2 separate regions of the Homo sapiens genome follow, and region 2 is linked to region 1. The links come from fine-mapping of genetic effects on gene expression. A gene starts in region 1. The other region holds a variant in brackets. All regions are shown on one strand. Distances are between the middles of the regions.

Region 1 (9,398 bases):
AGAGCCTTCTTCTGTTCTGGACCCCAGTCAAAACTGGAAGCCTTTCAGGTCACTTGATAAATGGGCCAGAGTAACACACCTAAATGAGGAATGTGTTTTTTCCAAAATCCGAATAGGCCCACTAGGCGTTGGGCCCCTTTCTTGGTTGTAGGAGGGGCTAAATGCAGCAACTTATCCTTCACCTTAGAAGGAATATCTGGACAGGCCCCACACCACTGGACCCCTAGAAATTTTGCTGAGGTAGAAGCTCCCTGAAGTTTATTCGGATTTATTTTCCATCGTCTGGCAAGCAAATATTTCACCAGTAAGTCCAGTGTGTTTCCTACTTCTTGCTCACTGGGTCCAATCAGCGTAATGTCATCAATGTAATGGACCAGTGTGATATCTTGTGGAAGGGAAAAGTGATCAAGTTCTCTCCAAACAAGATTATGACACAAAGCCAGAGAGTTGATATACCCCTGAGGTAGGACAGCAAAGATATATTGCTGGCTTTGTCAGCTGAAGGCGAATTGCTTCTGGTGGGCCTTATGGACAGGCATGGAGAAAAAGTCATTTGCCAAATCAATGGCTGCATACCAGGTACCAGGAGATGTGTTAATTTGCTCAAGCAATGAAACCACATCTTGAACAATACTTTGCATCCTTCAGTCAAGTTGACACTCAATATTAATCATCACATACCCCCTTGTCCATACCTGTGTGTGTCTATAGGAACATTCCGGAACGCAGCGGCTTTGGTAAAGCCTGATCCCTGGGTCATAGCCCAGCTTAATGGCATGATGACTGCAGTTAATTAACCCATCCATTTAAGAGACAGAAGCAAGAAGCACATTTCTGAGCTCCAGACAGTTTTGAGCATCAGAATAGTTTTAGAGAAAGTAAGATATTTTGAAATTATACAGTGATCTCTATTAAAGTGATAACAGCTGGTACCAACTTCGCAAATCATGGAATTTTTTAAGAAAGATCAACCGCACACTTGTGAAACCCCGCCAGACTAATATCATCAGGGATTATAGGAGAAGCACTTACTACTGTCAAGTCAACACATAGCCTAGTTGACCTTTTATAAATGGATGAAAATAAGTTCAGCAAACCCCAGCAAGATATATTGAAAGATAGGCTGGAGGTGAATGGTAGGAGGTCTGAGCAATTTCACTAACCCAGCCAATCAGCAGTAATTGGTAAAGTGCCTTCTCCCCTGAGAGCCTGGGGAGATGTGTGGCTGCCGATTGGTGAGCTGGTGATTGCTTGGAGGGTTTTTATCGACTCTCTTTGCTGCTTTTTGGGTGTATTTCTCCCACGAGCTTTAACAATAATGCCCATGAATCTGAACCTCCTGACTGGTAAATGTTCTCTGGCCTTGACAATAAGTGTTTCAGCTTTGCTTCAATGTTTGTTTTCTGCCAGTGCTGTGGCCTGGATGCCCTGCAGTATCTATCTTGCAGCCTGAGGCCATTATTGGGCAGCACGTTGCCATTTTCTCCAGCATTATTTCTTTTAAATATTTCTCACTGAAAATGAGTCACTTTGAGATGATTACACCATAGTCATCTGTGGGATCCATAAGCAGTTTTGTCAGTGTGTGTCTAATTTTGGTCTCCCGTTCTTTGTCCTATGTAAGGCACATCTAGAGGGCCCATCTTTCTCTGGTATTTGGATACAATTCTTTAACCAGTGATTTTACTTTTTCCTCTGCTCACTCCCAGCCAAAAATCATCATTTACTTAGATCCCATGGTATGAAACATGTTTCACAATTGTGAACCTAAGCTTGGTACTTTAACTGAGCACACATCTCACAGAAATCCCGGAGTGGCCTCCCAGGAGACTGAAATCTAAGGGCAACAGGATCAAGCCCTCACAATGAAATGGGACGCAGGCTGGCCCATCTTTCTCTGTGGCTAAGTAATGAGGCTTGTTATTTACAGTGCCCTGTTTACTTGCTGACTCTGTTAGCGTTTTTCTTTTCAATTTGGATCTCGGCCCACATGGTAACCCTCTCACGAGGCACGTGCCATTTTGATTTTAAAATAATAGGAAGAATGCTCCAGCGCTGCTTGTTGGTGCTACGACTCTCAAACTGTCTATAGATTGCCAAGTAAGTGGAATGTTTTGACAGAGAGAAATATGTGTTGTCAACATTGCTTTATCCATGGTTGAGAAGAAAAATTGAAACGACTTCGGCAGGGTTCAGACGTTGATGACTGGAATGATCTCCTTGAAACAAATGACTACAGACCATTTTGTTTTCCTTTACGCCTCATTCTACTCTAATGAAATGCCCAATTAAAAGCATAGCTTATGTGCTTAAAAGAAAAAGCTTAGAAAGGATTCTTGGATGGAGCTGTGCCCGCAGTAATCCTTCACCACAGGAGAAAATCATAGTATCTTTGTAAAGAAACAATATCATGTTGTGACTTCCAGTGGCCTGCATGGCAGTTTTAGAGGAGACCCAAAATGAATGTAACCTTTTTAAGATAGAAAGGTTGTGTGTGTATTTCTGTGTGTGCCTGTGTGTGTGTGTGTGTGTGTGTGTGTGTGTGTGTCAGACAGACAGAGAGAAACATGATTTATTTGTGATATATCAAATGGCAGACACTGGTTGGAAATAGAAAAGAAAAAAGAGTTCCCAGTAGAGTGATACATTTAGGACAACTTGTGAATTTGTCTCTGGGATTAAGCGGAGTATGGAACTATGCAGCTGTGTGTTGTCTCCTAGCAAAATGAGGTTCCCTCTGTTTCTCTGGCAGGCAAGTTCCTATCGAAAGCTTATTGGGAGTGGGAACTCAGACAGCTTGCAGAGCCCTGCTGACCATTATCTTCACGTTCAGGTCTGCGTTGTGGGAGCTACTCTCTATTTTCTTGCTTAGTGAACACTCTTGACAAAAGAAAATGTTGACAGCTTTGCCTTTCTTGAGAATCACTAAGGAAACATTTCATCTTGTCAATCTCCTTTCATGTGCTGTGCAGGAGAAGAGAAAGGGAATATTGCTTTGGAGCATAGCCTTGACTTTCAACATGCATTTAACAATTAATATTTTCTTGAGCACCTACTATGTGCTAGAGTATTTGCTAGTCATTACCAGTCAGACAAAGATGAATGGAGCTAAGTCCCTATTCTTAGAGAGCTTAGCACATTCTCATTTTAAAATCAGTTGCCTCATTAGAAGGGCTATAAAAGGGATGCAGATAAAGTAATAAGGGAATTTGTATCATTTGGACTTCCTCACGTGACCCACTCCATGGCTTCTGGAACTAGGCAGATCTGAGTTTGAACATTATTACCCATGACATTGGCTGGCACAGTGTATTTTAAGCTATGTCTCCATTTCTGTCAGTTTTTAAATGAGGATAGTGACACCTACCTTGCAGGGCTGTTGGGATGAGTAAATGAGATACTGTGTGTACAGTGTAAAGCAGTGCTTGGCACAGGTGAGTCCACCTGGAATGGCAGCTTCCTTCCTACCTCCTTTATGCCACGCTGCATCCCCTGTCAGTCATACAGATGCCTCTCACAAACCTGCCTGCACCTTACAAGTGAACCACAAGCATTAAGATGGCTTCTTGAGGCTGGGTGTGGTGGCTTCCGCCTGTAATCCTAGCACTTTGGGAGGCCAAGGTGGGTGGATCACTCGAGCCTAGGAGTCCAAGAATAGCCTGGGCAATATGGCAAAATCTCAGCTCAACCAAAAAAAAAAAAAAAAAAAAAATTAGCCAGGCGTATTGGTGTGTACCTGTAGTCCCAGGTACCTCGAGGCTGAGGCAGCAGAATTGCTTGAGACTGGGAGGCGGAGGTTGCAGTGAGCCCAGATGAAAACACTGCTCTCCAGCCTGGGTAAAAAAATAAATAAATAAAAATAAAAATAAATGGCTTCTTCAACTGTGTTGTAGCTCTGGCATGTAAAGAAATCTAACACATGGTAGTGACCATATAATAGTGAGGATGTTTTTTAAAACTAATTTTCCAAAATTTACATGCAAATGATTCTTGGCCTCTTTAAGGAATGATAATACATGGGAGGCGTTAGTCAGAGGCTACCCACCAATATTCTGGCCTTTCTCCTGCCAAAAACCTGGCACGGTTCTACTCCTCCAACACTGTGGAAGTTGGGTATGCCATGTGACTTTATTTAACTAATGGAATGTGAGCAGACGTGACTTGTGTCACTCCCAGGAGAAAGCTTTAAAAGATCCACTTACACTGCCACCACCATCATGGAAGCAAATGTTGAGATGGGGCTTGTGTCAGCCTAGACCTGTGCGATATCACAAGGAGTAGAGTCCTTGTGATAATCCATGTGAAAAATACAGCAGGGGTGAGAAATTGATTTTTTTTTTTTTTGCATTGTATCACTGAGATTTTGCAGTCTTTTGTTCATGGTCTGCCTAGATTAACATAGGAGATTATACACCTATTTCAACAATTCTGTTTTTGCTTAAAACATTGAAGTGATTCTTCTGGTGGTATTGCTGTCAGGGGCAGCATTTGACAACCACACTCTCAGTGTAAAGCCATACTTGCTTTCTGCCCTATAGTAGTATTGCCAGGCTTGACCCTCTGTTTTATTCATTAGATTTGACTCTGCATCTGGTGAAAAGAATAGATTGGACATCATTGAGCCTATTGGGATGAATACACCCTTCAGAAACAGTGGCAGGCAGAGGCTGGGCAGCGGGGGATATGAAGGCAGTTTACCCAGGGTGCAGGCAATAAGAAGATATATTGTCTATAGAAATGTTTAAAGAAATAGAACTGATTAAGATACAGTGTCTTTTGTATTACCATCACAAGTCTATAATTCTAAACAATTTTAGGGAGAAAATACTCCTCCCTTCCCCACTCCTGTTTTCCCCCCTCCTTGCGCAACTACTCAGAAAGCAGTTACAATGAGATTCAAAACTTGAAAAACAGAACTGTGAATTAGAATGTGTTGCCTTATTATGGCAAGTGTTTTGAAATAGATAGCTTTCACGTGGAATATTTATTTAAAAGAAAAAATAAAAATTATTCTATTTTAGGGTTGTTCTTGGTACATTAATTTGGACATTGGCTTAGGAATTTGTAGCTAGTCATATGAACGTTTATGTAAATCTTTCTGTCTAAATTGTTATATCCGTGAGGGCGGGGCTGGGCCTCATTCATCCTTAGGTGTTCATGGGGTCTGGCCAGTACTGTAGTCCGGTACACATAATTGCCCCCCATATATATATATATGAGTCTATATATATATATATATATATATATATATATAGTATATATATATATATATATATATACTATATATATATATATATATATATATATATATAGACTCAAACTAGGCTGGCAGTGAAATGATATTTTTCTTTTGCTTTTTTTTCAGTTATGTGTATGAGAAGCAGGGCGATATCTCCGGCCCACTTCTTTGACAGGTTCTCTTGTTGCTGATGCTGAGAAACTCCAGGAGCCTGCTATTTGTAGAGAGAAGTGTGTTCCAGCTGCTGGTGCTAACAAAGATCTGAGGTTATACACACATGACCTATCACCCACACCCACCCGATTGGGAGGGGTTGCCTCTCCCTGTGTCCACACATATGCCTTGAGTTGCTCTTCAGTGAATATCACTTTTCCTTTCATGTTTTTTCTACATGCTATTATCTGTATGAAATGAAGACCAAGAAAGGATGGGAAGAAGGAGAAGAAAAATTTTGATTTATCTCAGAAACTATACTCCGAAGTGAGAGTCCTGGTTGCAGGTAGGATTTTGTTGGTGATCATTAGAGGGATGAGGGCTGAGAGAACAATTTGAATGTTGCCTATTTCTCCAGGCTGGGGTGGGAGTGGGAAATATGAAGGCAATTTGCCCAGGGTGCAGGCAATAAGAAGATATATTACTTATAGAAATATGAATGAATATAACACTTATAAAGATTATATAGTTGGGATTGGCCCACAGTAGTTGATAATAACGAGAAGTTCTTGGAGACCAGATCATAGTGAACTTGGCCTTAGGGAAATAATTATCGTCTTGAACTCTGATTGTTTTATGGGTAAGTTATGGCATTGAGAGGTGTGTGAGGGGATGCTTAGGCCAGAAGGAGTCTTTTTACCATTTTGAATGTCCACCTTAATGTTTCCTGGGTGAAGTTCCAAGATTTGCAGGGAGCATGCACAGCCTCTGGCCTGTATGGAGTCCATCCCATCTTCCAAGGGTACTTGTAGATGGAGATTAGTCTTGGGTAGGCCATCTTGTGAATTGGAGCCAGTGTTCAGTGCTGGACAGATGTCAACTGGAACTTTCAGATATAGCCCAAGTTCTGGGACTATGAGAAGCCAAACAACCCAGGAATTTTCCTTTGTACTATTTTCCAGAAAAGGGTAGAGTCATTTTTGAGCTCCTGGGGTAAGATGGTAGAATGCAGAGAAACTAGAAAGTATCTACATTTCTCTATTGCAAGCTCTGTACATCTAGATTTGACAGTAAGAATTTGGTTGACTGATATGTAAGTGCTTTTGCACTTACAGACTCGACATGAGATTCAAATGAAAGGGACACAAATGTTTGGTTTTGCTTTTACTCCTTGAGAATAAATCCTGGACTTTACAAATATCCTTTCTAGAAAGAACAACTGAGTGAGAAACCCTAAACTGATACTGAATAAAGCAAGTATGTCTCACAGAATATCTGATTTAAAAAAAAAATTCCTGCTTTAGGAAATGTGTGTGTGTGTATATATATATATATACACACACATATACATATCTATACATATATGTATACACACACAATCATACATATATAGATTATATATGTATCTATATATATTTCTTGGATGTCTTATATTAAGCTTTGGTAGATAAGTGGACTTAGGGACCATAATTACCACCATTTTCCTTATAGAAAGTCTTTGAGTAACTTAGACTATGATCTCTTTTGTTTTTGTCCATTTGCCATTTGTTATTCAGACAATACAACCCCAAGCATGACCTTGGGCACGTTACTTAACAGTTTTAAGCCTGTCATCTATAAAAAGTCAGGGTTGGACCCAGTGACTTCTGAGGTCCCCACTTGCACCAGCAGTCTCTGATTTGGTTGCATGGGGAGACAGCTGTCACAGTTGAAGCCATGTGTGCCTCTCCCACATCACTCCTTTTCTAGAGCTTGCATTTTCCTTAGTGCCTGAGAAATACCGTTTTATAGATGCATGCCTTAGAACGGTATTTTCTCTTTTCATTGTAAAGGAAGGTTTTAGACTTTGCAACAAACGTTCTGGATAGAATGGACAATTAAAAACATGATTGAAACATGATTTTTAGGTATCCACATTATTTCACAAGCTCATTCCTTTCATCTCTACTTTGTCAAGGATTTAGGCAGCTTGTTTCTTTGACTTTCATCACATATCTTTTTTCCTTCCTGTTCAAAATAAGCTCTGTTTCCTTTTTCCTGGCTAGATGAAAGCCTGTGGACTCTGTGCTTCCTGATATCAACCCAACAGTGGTGGTAGAGGGGTTCACATCACTCCAGATAGTCAGTTTCAAAGAATAATAGTTTGGAGACTGTGGGATGAAAAACCAGCTTGAGTTTTCCTCTTCAGATCTCTCCAATACACACTGTCTATGTATTATTTCAGAACACCCATTCAAAAGTAGACTGTTTCCTTCCCTGACTTGGCACCAAATCAAGAAGTGGCATATAATGTATTGTTGTGTTTATTATGCATCATTTTGCTGCTGACACTGTGGCCATCAAATATTGGAAGATTTACAACCACAGAGGTCCAGCCATCATGCCTGAAGTGAAGGACAAAGTACTCTGTTATTCATCTTCAGCTCTGGCCCTTTATGATCAGACAGTGAGCTATATACTTATCAAAGTCAAAATAACCTTCACTTTAGAAAACATAGTTGTCCTTAATTGCCAGAATAGGAATGCATAAACAGCCTCTCTCTTGATAATGGAATGGAGGCTGAATTGATGTAAGTTTTAAGTATTTTGTAATTTTCCAATTGTGGTGCGCTCAATTAAGTTTTAATTCACAAATTATGCATGTATTATACTGGCAAAGAGAAAAAATATTTGTAGTTTTAAACTATACTATCTAAATATGTTATACACATTTGTGCCATGTTTTTGTTTTTTTTTTTCCTCTGAATCAAAGCTATGGCTGGTAGTCCTATTTCTATGCCCTGGTATATAGCAGTTTAGAGCTTGGATGCTGAAACTGGAAAGATGTAAGTTTGAATCCTTGGCTATCCCTGGAACACAGGCAAATGCCTTAGTTTATTCCTCTGTAAAAAATAGTAATAATCATAATAGTACCTACCTTCTAGACAGGAGTATTAAGAATTAAGTGAGATTGTGTATGTTGAAAGATGCTTAGCTCAGTGCCTGGTACATTATGAAAACTCAAGGAATATTTGCCATGATTGTTATTACTCCTTTCTTTCTATTATTGTTAAAAACAGCAGTCCAGAGAAAACATGTATTTCCAAGACCTTCATATCAAAGAGGCAGGAATGAAATGTTACTAGCATTTTATAAATATATACGTATGTTATGGTACTAGGTGGCTTTTGGGAGACATGTAGTTATAAGAGTGAGACAGAGATGACTCAGAAACCAGAAGGCAGCAATGAAAATAGTTCTTACTTGAAAAGGCATTTGTTTAATATGCTTACTCAAGATATATCTTACATAAGATATAAGATATATCTTAGAATTAGTTAAATCTATATAGTGGCTATATGAGCATTTAAAGTTACAGATGTTTATTTGGAAATAAGCAAGTTTTAATATGTGAATAGTAACCCCATGTCTACAAGTTGCAGTGTGGCCAAATGTAAATGGCAGAACAAATTTAGGAAATGAGCTCTAACTCTATTTTGGGAAAGACAAGGGGAATCTCTGGAATTTGGTCTTTGTTCCTAGCTAAGACCTGGAGGTGATTTTAATTGACAAGTATCTTCTGAGCAGTAAAATCAGGATGACAGCATTTGCTTTCCTGGGTGGTAAAAAATCCTCTCTAATAATGGTGGGTGAGTTGCTGGTGAATGAAGAAATGGGCTTGAGAAATGCTGGGAAATAAAATGACTGGCAACTTTAGTTTCAGAGCAATAGGCCTGTGAGTTTTCTTCATTGTTATTTTTGCTGTTCTTTCTGGTGTCATTGTAAAATTAAGTATAGACAAATGAACTGTTAATGGTCTAGAATTTCAGACCAATAGTCTGCCCAGAAACCACAAGACAAGCAATAGGGGACTCTATTTGATATGAAAATTACAGTAGGATTATTTTTATCTCTTCCTTTCCCCTCTTTCTTCTTTACCTCTTTAATAACGACAGGTAAAACTGACACCAAAAAACAAAAGTCTTACCCAAATCCATTGTAAAGTTCCCATTCAGGTGTGTATTAC
Region 2 (9,398 bases), 48 kb before region 1:
TGAGGAACCTTGATGGACAGTACAGGATGAAGGAAGACAATCTTAGTGGGACCTTGGTTTACCCAACATTTCAAGAAAAGAACCGGCTTTCACAACGAGTAAGCTGGCCTGGGCTGGGCTGGGCAGGGCTGTGCAGGGGGTTGTCAGAAGCAAGGCTCTCTCGTGTCTACTTTAGTTTTACACTAGGTGATTAATACAACCAAAAGTCACCTTTAACCTGGAGAATAATTCAGCCCGTAACAGCTCATCAATCTGCTGTTGCTGTGCAGCAGCAAAAATTTAATACATAATAAATAATTTTTCACTGGCTCACAAGGAATAAAGATTTCTTTGTAAAAATATTTCCCATTTTAAGGTTAACTATCATCACACACCATTAATGCTTAATCATACACTTAATTTGAAATCCAAATACTGAAGATTTAAACTGAAATTTTACCCACACCATGAAATGATTAATTTGGTAACTTGTGATCTTTGCATGTGGTTCCACTACTTACAAAGATAGGATGTGGAGGAGGAGTTGTAAGAAAGCTGAGTGGGAACACGTTGAGTCAGGGTATGTGTTTATATAATGCATTTCGCAGACTACTTTAAATTTTACATGACAGACGTTTTAATAATACTTAGTATACACCAGGCGTTGTTATTAGCAAATAACAAATATTAACTCTTTAAATCATTATATCCACTCTATGAAGTAGATACTATTGTTATCATTCCTACTGTGCCGACAAGAAACAAAGGCACACAAGAGATTATAACCTCTGCCTGCATTAGTCTGTGCTGAAGATCACAAAGTGTATTAGTGATACAACCAGGAACCAAACCTGAATTGTCCAAATTAGAGTCTGTGTACTTAATCCATAAGCTAAATTGCCTCTCCAGGAAAAAACCTTCCACCTCTATGTGCTCTCTTCTTAAACCTAAGGAAGGAGGCCGTTTTCACCACTTCAGTTAAAGCTGTTTCATGTCCAGGAGGAAGTTGACTTTTGTAAGATCGTTGACCAGTGGCAAGGGGCACCATAAGTGCATTTTGAAGGAGTGGCTGTTCTGATCATTGGCCCTGCACTTACCTGAGCAGTCCCAAGAGAGGTGAAGACCAGAAAGGCCAAGTTCAACATTTTGTTTGCATCTGTATTAAAAGAGAAAGAAAACATGTGTGAACTTTCTCATGGATACAGAAGTAATGGCCTCTAGTAAGCGGGCTGAAGTGTGGTGAGTTGGAGACTCACTTTTCCTCACATGTCTTCTGTGTTACACAGGTGTTTTCAATACTGTGCAACTGTTAGTTTCATAATATTTTCCACAAAAAGAAATATCATTCGCCTGTAATCCCCAGCACTTTGGGAGGCCGAGGTGGGCCGATCACGAGGTCAAGAGATCAAGACCATCCTGGCCAACATGGTGAGACCCCATCTCTACTAAAAATACAAAAATTAGCTGGGTGTGGTGGCAGGCACCTGTAGTCCCAGCTACTTGGGAGGCTGAGGCATGAGAATCGCTTGAACCTGGGAGGTGGAGGTTGCAGCGAGCCAAGATCGTGGCACTCCAGTCCAGCCTGGCGACAGAGCAAGACTCCGTCTCAACAACAACAACAAAAATATTCTGTGTATATACCAATTAGTATAAGCCCGAACTCAGGGAGGTCTTTGCTGTAGAAATTCATGTAGAAATTACAAGTATCTGAGCAAAGGTAGATCAGGACAAGGGAAGCTGAGTTTGGGGGCTCTTAGGGAAAAATAACCCTTAGGAACTGGTGACTTGTGAGTTCTACCTCGTTAAGCTAGGTACCCAGTGATGGGAAGGGGAAGCATATCTGACAGGTTTCTACCATGGCCATCAGAGCTAATGATAACAGAGCAGATGGAGGTTGAGGAGATTTGGGAGGAGAGGGCACGTGAAATTTAGGTTATGTTGCATTGGTGTGGCCTGTTGAGCATCTAAAATACCAGGAGAACCCAGATACATGATCCTAATGCCTGCTGTGGCATTGATGCTTGATGCACATATGCTTGATGGGACTCTGAATCCTTGGAAGGGCCTTATTTTGACAACTTGCCAGTTGAAAATGTCAGTAGGGGCTAGTGCACATGTATCTAGGCTGATATTTTTGCATTATAGACATGTCTTTAAATCTAATAGCAGAATTAGGTGCCATGAGTTAAAATACATATGATTAAGTCCAGACGTGGTGGCTCAGGCCTGTAATCCCAGCACTTTGGGAGGCCAAGGCTGGTGGATCACTTGAGGTCAGGAGTTCGAGACCAGCCTGGCCAACATAGTGAAACCCTATCTCTACTAAAAATACAAAAAATTAGCTGAGAGTGGTGGTGGGCACCTGTAATCCTAGCTACTCGGGAGGCTGAGGCAGGAAAATTGCTTGAACCTGGGAGGTAGAGGTTGCAGTTAGCTGAGATCATGCCACTGCACTCCAGCCTGGGCAACAGAGTGAGACTCTGTCTCAAAAAAAAAAAAAAAAAACAAAAACCAAAAAAAAACCCCAAAACCCAGAAACATACAATTAAGTGTTTTTTAGAGCTGTGGTTAATCAGATCATGATAGTCAAATGAATAAATTTTAAACCCTTATTAATGTTTTTAATGCTAGGCATTTACAGTTAAAATCAATATTTTTCTCAAAGTAATGACTCTAGATATTGGATTATATCATTTAGGCATAAAACTTTCTGATAAATATGCACTGGGAAATGATTTCACATCTAACTTTTCTTTCAGGGAAAGTGGAAAAGTTAAAGGGTTTGGACAAAACCACATATAACAATGTACTTAGTGTAAAAATATTTTTTAAATAATAAATGTGCATTTAAAACATTGTGAAAATTTGGTTTCTGTAACACTATGAATCCTAAAAGGCAATACAAAGTATTGTTAATCAACTGTTGGATTAATGTTTATTATAACCAAAAATTTTTATTTAGAATTTTCAAAATTATTATAAAGTAGAATTGCATATTTTATATGCTGCAATACTTTGGGGCCCCTCATCATTAATGTGTGGACTAATAGGAACATAGTTTTAATATAAGCTTAACTCCATTCTTTGCTTCACTGAGGGTCTAAAGTACAAGTTCTTTCTGCTTTCAAGGAAAGGGAGATTTAGAAAGTTTGTTTCGTGTGATAATTAAGGGCATGAGCCCTGGAGATAAACCACACAGGTTCAAATCCCCTCTCTAGCACTGATTAGCTGTGTGGCTTTGGGAAAATTATTTTTTCTGTGCTACAATTTTATAATCTATAAAAGGGGAATAAAAGTTACACCTACCTCTGATAGATGTGGGTATTAAGTGAGTTAATACATATAAAGCAACTAAACCAATGTATGCATATACTAAATATTTAATTAACATCAGATATTATTAGTTTTTGATTGGCTCTAGATCTGGTAGTAATCAAGGCCTTGCACTATCAAGGCCTATTATAAAAGACTACAGAGAAAGAATAATAACCGCTCGCTTGTTGAGTGCTTACTGTGTATCAGACACTTTTCAAGGCACCTTTTATGTACTAAAGAAAAGGGAATTTATAGGCACAGAAAAATTGTTTTTGATAAACATAGAGAAGAAATTTTCCCTGTGTCTGAAAGATCCTCTAAATTGGCGAGAGAGACCATGGGTCCTAGGAAAAGAATGGGTTTGGGTCATGCTTCCTAACAGCACAGCCCCGAGAGAAAGTTGGGGGTTGGTGCTTCTGGGACAATGGGATCATAGGCACTTTTGTAAAGAAAAATTCCTGATGAGAAGATTTCTATCATGGAAACAAAGGTCCATCAAGAATAGACTATGAAGAGTAGTGTCATTGTTTCAGCACCCAGAATCTTTGTGGTTCTTGTATTGACCTGCAATATTGGTCAGCTGTCACCAGAGGGTGCCCTGTCCACATCTGCCCAAAAAGACTAGATTAACTCTCCTTCCTATGGACATACAGGAAAGATTTTATTAATGGCAGCTAGAGTAGTGTCCTTCCATCAGGGGACATACCTGTCCAGTACAGT[G/A]ACTGACTTACTCCATGTGAACGTCCATCCTCGTATCACAACACTCCAGCATATCTGCAAGACCAGAAGATGGTAGCGGGGCGCCGATCAATCAGTTGAATGGGACGGTGTTATCGTGGAGCTGAATTGAACCCTCTTAAAACCCCCTGTGCTGTGGCAGCAATAAATGATCCCTACAATGCATTAATATTCAGTGTATATTTGGGCTTATTTTAGAGACTTAATAAAAGTATAGTGGCTGGACATGGTGGCTCATGCCTGTAACCCTAGCACTTGGGATTAGGAGGCAGGAGGGAGGAGGACTGCTTGAACCCAGGAGTTTGAGACCAGCCTGGGCAACATAAGGAGACCTCATCTCTACGAAAAAAGTATGTCCTATAGCAAGATAGAAGAGGTAGATTCTATACATTCTACACTTATATTTCCCCAAATCTGTGTGAGCCTATGTGAACCCAGGCAAGTCATTTAATGTTACCCATTTCCATCATCTGAAGAATCAAGGGGTTGGGTTACAAGATGATACATAAAATTTCTAATAGTTTCTCTAAGATTTGGAACTCAAATGGATGATTGTGAATGCCTATAGAAGATCATGGTGAAATCTTTGAAGCGAGCTGGTAATGTAGTGCTAGTATTTGCAGATTGATAGGCATGAGTGCTGATAAAAGGAGAGAGAGGTCATTGGAGCAGGCTTTGATGATGGATGTGACTAGTTGATCAAGGGAAGAAAAACAATAGGCTGGAGAATGGAAAGAAGATGATGACTGCTGGAGTAAGTAATTAAGATTCTTATCCTCTGGTGACATTAGGCAGGGTTCTGGAAATCTTCATGCCTTGGGTGGATTTGCAGACTAAACTCAATAATTTATTGTTCATTTTTGTTCTCCTTACATTATTTGAGCTCCTTAACCCTGAGAACTTAAAGAAGAATGGAAAGCTATGCATTAAAGATAGAAATAGTGGCAGGAATATTTTCTTAGCTTCTTGGTTTCCTGTACTTGGCTCCAGGATGCAGACTTTCACAAATTCAGGCACACTTTCTTTAGGGAGGAATGTGGCTTAGAGTTAAAAGATGTTAACACTCCTTGGGGACTATTCTTATAGCTGCCTGAGTGGCAGGGTACTGTGACCTTGAAGAGAACCAAGGAGAAAGAACAGGTTTCAGGAGATAGGTATCATGCCAGTTGTAGCAATTGTGACCCATCCAGCTTCTGTGCATCAGAGTTGAACCATCTTTTCACTGGTTTCTCTCCTTGAAAACATTAAAAGTGAGTATTTATCTCTCGTTGGCTTATTTATTCCTCAGACTCAAAATGGAGAATGCATTGAATTATTTTCTCTGACATAGAGATAAAGTTTTTATACACTTAGAAAGCTCTTTCTTTGTTATTTTTTTGGTTTCAGTATATCAGTAGAGAGTTATCTTTTCATATATAATACTAACTTTTTAGATTTTTAACATTGTTATGGTAGTTTTAGTTTTCTTTTTTTTTTAACAAAAGGGGGAGATAAATCTGTGGATGAATGTTTCCTTACCTAGGCTGAAATCTCTTAGATATTTTCTTTTCTGTAAACCTCTGAGGCAGATGGTTTCAAACTTTCTCACTTTCAGAAACTTAGTGCCCTTAGTGATTCAGTATATTTTTCACAGTCACGCCTAGGCCAAAAGAAAAACCTAGCAGTTGTGTTTATTAAGTACATAGCTCCAAACAATTTAAGTATTTATACCTAACAACTTAACAGCTTTATGAAAAAATAATATACATAAGTTACCTGTGAGATTACTGTAGTATCCGAGAACACCTTGGCAAACAGTTTGGGAACCATGACTCTCAGAATAGATAACCGCAGATGGAATTTAAAGAAATTCCCACTGCAGTAGAGAGTTAGGTGGACAACTAACAACTTCTATATGGCCTGTCATTATCCAGATGGTGGGAAGCTGAGACATTACAATCTGGGCAACTAGAAAGGCAGGTGTGGTAGTAGCAGGAAGGAAAGTTGATGGCCTTCTTGGGAAAAAGCTGAGAGAAAATCCTTGGCTAATTCTAACTCAAGGAATGCAATGAAGGTCCTTGGAAGACAGAGTCAAGTTCGTTCCAGTGTCCCCACCTCAGTGATTGCTGGTGAGGTGAATGGATTTTATACATGTAAAGTGCCCAGATAGTCTCAAGTCTCAGTCTTTATGCAGTCTCATAATGTAATGTTTGATATATGCATTATATAAATTTTGCTGCTACTTAAATTCATTGATGAAACTCTGTGGAGTGTGAGTCCTACCCCTGCATTTCAGATAACACCAAGAGTGCAAGAACTGGGGCAATATGCTATCTATCAGTGTTCCTTATGGAATTTGGGTGTTACATCTTTTTTTTTTTTTTTTTTTTGTTTTTGAGATGGAGTCTCGCTCTGTTGCCCAGGCTGGAGTGCAGTGGCGCGATCTGGACTCACTGCAAGCTCCGCCTTCCGGGTTCACGACATTCTCCTGCCTCAGCCTCCCGAGTAGCTGGGACTATAGGCACCCGCCACCATGCCCGGCTAGTTTTTTGTATTTTTAGTAGAGATGGGATTTCACCGTGTTAGCCAGGATGGTCTCGATCTCCTGACCTCGTGATCCACCTGCCTCGGCCTCCCAAAGTGCTGGGATTACAGGCGTGAGCCACTGCGCCCAGCCTGGGTGTTACATCTTAATAATACTTGCTATTATAACATTTCCCAGAGTGTGTTCCATGGGAATTAATTGATGCTACTTGAAAATAATGTTCTGCAATTAGACGTGTTTGATGAATGCTGGGTTAAAACAAATTATGCTGGGCTTCACAGAGCCTTTAATATGTTAGTCTACATTGTAAAGCTTCGGGAGGAGAGATAATAGCATAATTTATTCCCTAAGCTTCATTGATCAAGGAAACTTTTTATATTGAATGAAACATCTTATAGATTCATGTTTCATAGAATATACTTGGGGTGAGTAGTTCCAAAGGATCTTTTTAACCTATTTCTTTTGAATTATTTGAATAGATATTTACTGATCAGGGCTCTGATTTATCTGATATTGTCTTTCACGTTGGGATTACAAATTGAACCCTAACGTTATTTTTATGAGAAAGGACAATGTATTTTAAATCAGTTCTTTTGCACACTAGTTTTCTTCAATGCACCATGGTTTAGGTGTGAATCATCTGTATAGTGTGATTGCGTTTCCAACATTCTAATGCTGAATTATGTATATAACACAATTCATAATTTACTGACAATTTCCTTGCAGATGAGTGCTTCTAGTCATCAGAATATAACAATGCACATTTATTTCCAGTTATCCACAAAGTCTTCAAGCCTAATAATACATGTTTTTTAAACTTGTATTATTTAAAGGGGGAACCTTTTAAATTCCTAAGTATATGCTGTATCACATAAGTTTGGTGCCCCCATTAAAAACATAACAAACCCTCTTGCCTTTCTAGGTTTTGGATAAGTTGGCAAAAAACCAGAGAAAATGTAGATACCAAAATATCAAATATAAAGTCTGTTATTGAAATGGTCAGGTTAATATTGAACTCCAGAATTAGGCAGACATAACCGTTCAAATCCAGTTAGCATTAGAGTGAGGTAGGCCTCCCCCTACACAACTTATGCCAAACATATGCTTTCCTCAGATAAAGCTAGTTGTACAGAAGAAGGAAGGGGGCTGAGTCTTGCATCCTTCTACTGCCCCCATTTTACCTGGTCCCTAGGAGTAGTGTGAGACTGGGACAAGTGATCTGGGATTACACTGATTAGCATGCTTCACAGGAGGGAAATATAAGGAGAAAGGAAGAAGTATTTCTCAGTAACATCCGAGTTAGCCAGGAAGGCTCAGGAAATCCCTGTTTGGTGATGAGATCATTGTATCATTGTTTAGAGATTTCTAATTCATGATGCAATGTATTTTTAAATGGTAAGTTTTAGAAAGCTTGTTTTTATAATTCTAAACTCTTTCAGACATCAGTTGTGTATCTAATCTTTTGTTTACAGGACCTACTCAATCTAAATCAGAAAAAGAACAGGCTGAAGCTACAAATAAGATAAAAAGAAGTAGAAATGACTGTCTTGTATTTATAAAATGGCGATCATGAGATTTCATGTTAATGACTGACTACCGAGACATGCTATTTGGCTCTATGTGTCTGTTTCCCACAGAAAGGATGTCAGGCCTGGTGTTGATGGGCAAGCTGTCCAGAACATGGGTACCACACGTGCAGCACGGGCTCGGGCCTCAGAGTCAGGCACGCTGGAGCACTCATTGCAGCTCAGGTGCCACCCACAGGGCGAGCTCACACATGCTCACTCTGGTGAGTGCTGATAGCAGAAAGGATGCCTAGGCTCTCCTTCTATATGAAGAAATTAAATACATTATTTAGGACTAATTTTAAATTAGCTAGGTCTCTTTTTTAAATGAAAAAAAAAAAACTGGGAGAAGGATGATTTGACATTATGAAAGCAGTTTGTAAGGGCTTTTCATATAAAGCAACTCTAGAGGAACTAGAAGTGTGAAGACACCCAGGCAAACTTTGGTCTCCAGGTTAATTCAGGGCAAGTTAAAAGAGGAGTCTGTCCAAACCTGGGGTAGAATCCCAGGGTGAGAAGCAGTGTTTGAGCTGTTGACACTTAATAACAAATAAAACTAATAGTAGTGCAGATATTTGTATTTATTTAAATCTCTTTCTAACTGAATGTCTTTAAAACACAGTATAAAGAGATTAGGAATACTTTTTAAAATAAATTTTAGTGATCTTAATATTGAGGCTTTATTTTTTTAAGTGAAAAGAGTTAGTAAGGTAAAGGTATCCCTTCTTCTCTCCTTCCTTTTTTTTCTTCTGTTGAATTCACCACATTTACGGGAGAACTGAATATCCAATGTTGATGTCATAACCATGCACTCCTCCTCTTTCTGATAGTTGTATATCCAAATAATAGGTCGAATATCTCAGAGAAAATAGCTATGTTCTTAAGTGCTTTGTTGTTGTGTCTTAAATATATACAATGTTTTAAATATATACAATGAAATATATACGTAAGGGTTTATAGAAGTTTAAATACCAGCTGTGTAACTATGATTATTTTTCTAGGAAAATCTAGACAAAATTGATAGGTTTCATTTTTAAAAATCAGAAAAAGTTATAAAGGGATTTTTATAAGTAAAATATTTTATTTTAAAACATCTTGTTTAAGGTAGAAGAGGTAAGGACTAACAGTTTAGAACTGGAGAGGGTCTATTTCTGAAGTAGTGATATTTCAGAGTGCAAGATTGCTGCAGGAAAAAAGAAAGGTGAATTTTTTCCTACCTAGATTTGGACACAGCAGCAGTTAATTTTGGTAAGTGAAGGACTTCATCTGAAGCAAAG

The links. PIP is the estimated chance that this variant, and not a neighbour inherited with it, causes the effect.
Region 2: its variant is the best candidate, but not a certain one, in a credible set for the expression of LINC02208 in thyroid (GTEx, PIP 0.62).

The regions. Positions count from the first base shown.
Region 1 is chr5:118,558,261-118,567,658 of GRCh38, reverse strand. It overlaps LINC02208 (long intergenic non-protein coding RNA 2208), which reads left to right and starts at 5,542. Exons shown (of 10, transcript NR_104610.1): 1 at 5,542-5,738.
Region 2 is chr5:118,606,030-118,615,427 of GRCh38, reverse strand. LINC02215 (long intergenic non-protein coding RNA 2215) reads right to left here. Exons shown (of 5, transcript NR_104998.1): 2 at 5,551-5,689; 3 at 4,001-4,068; 4 at 1,077-1,135. Among named protein-coding and RNA genes, the nearest start is that of LINC02215, 15 kb to the right of the region's middle. The variant G/A (reference allele first, on the strand shown) is at 4,015.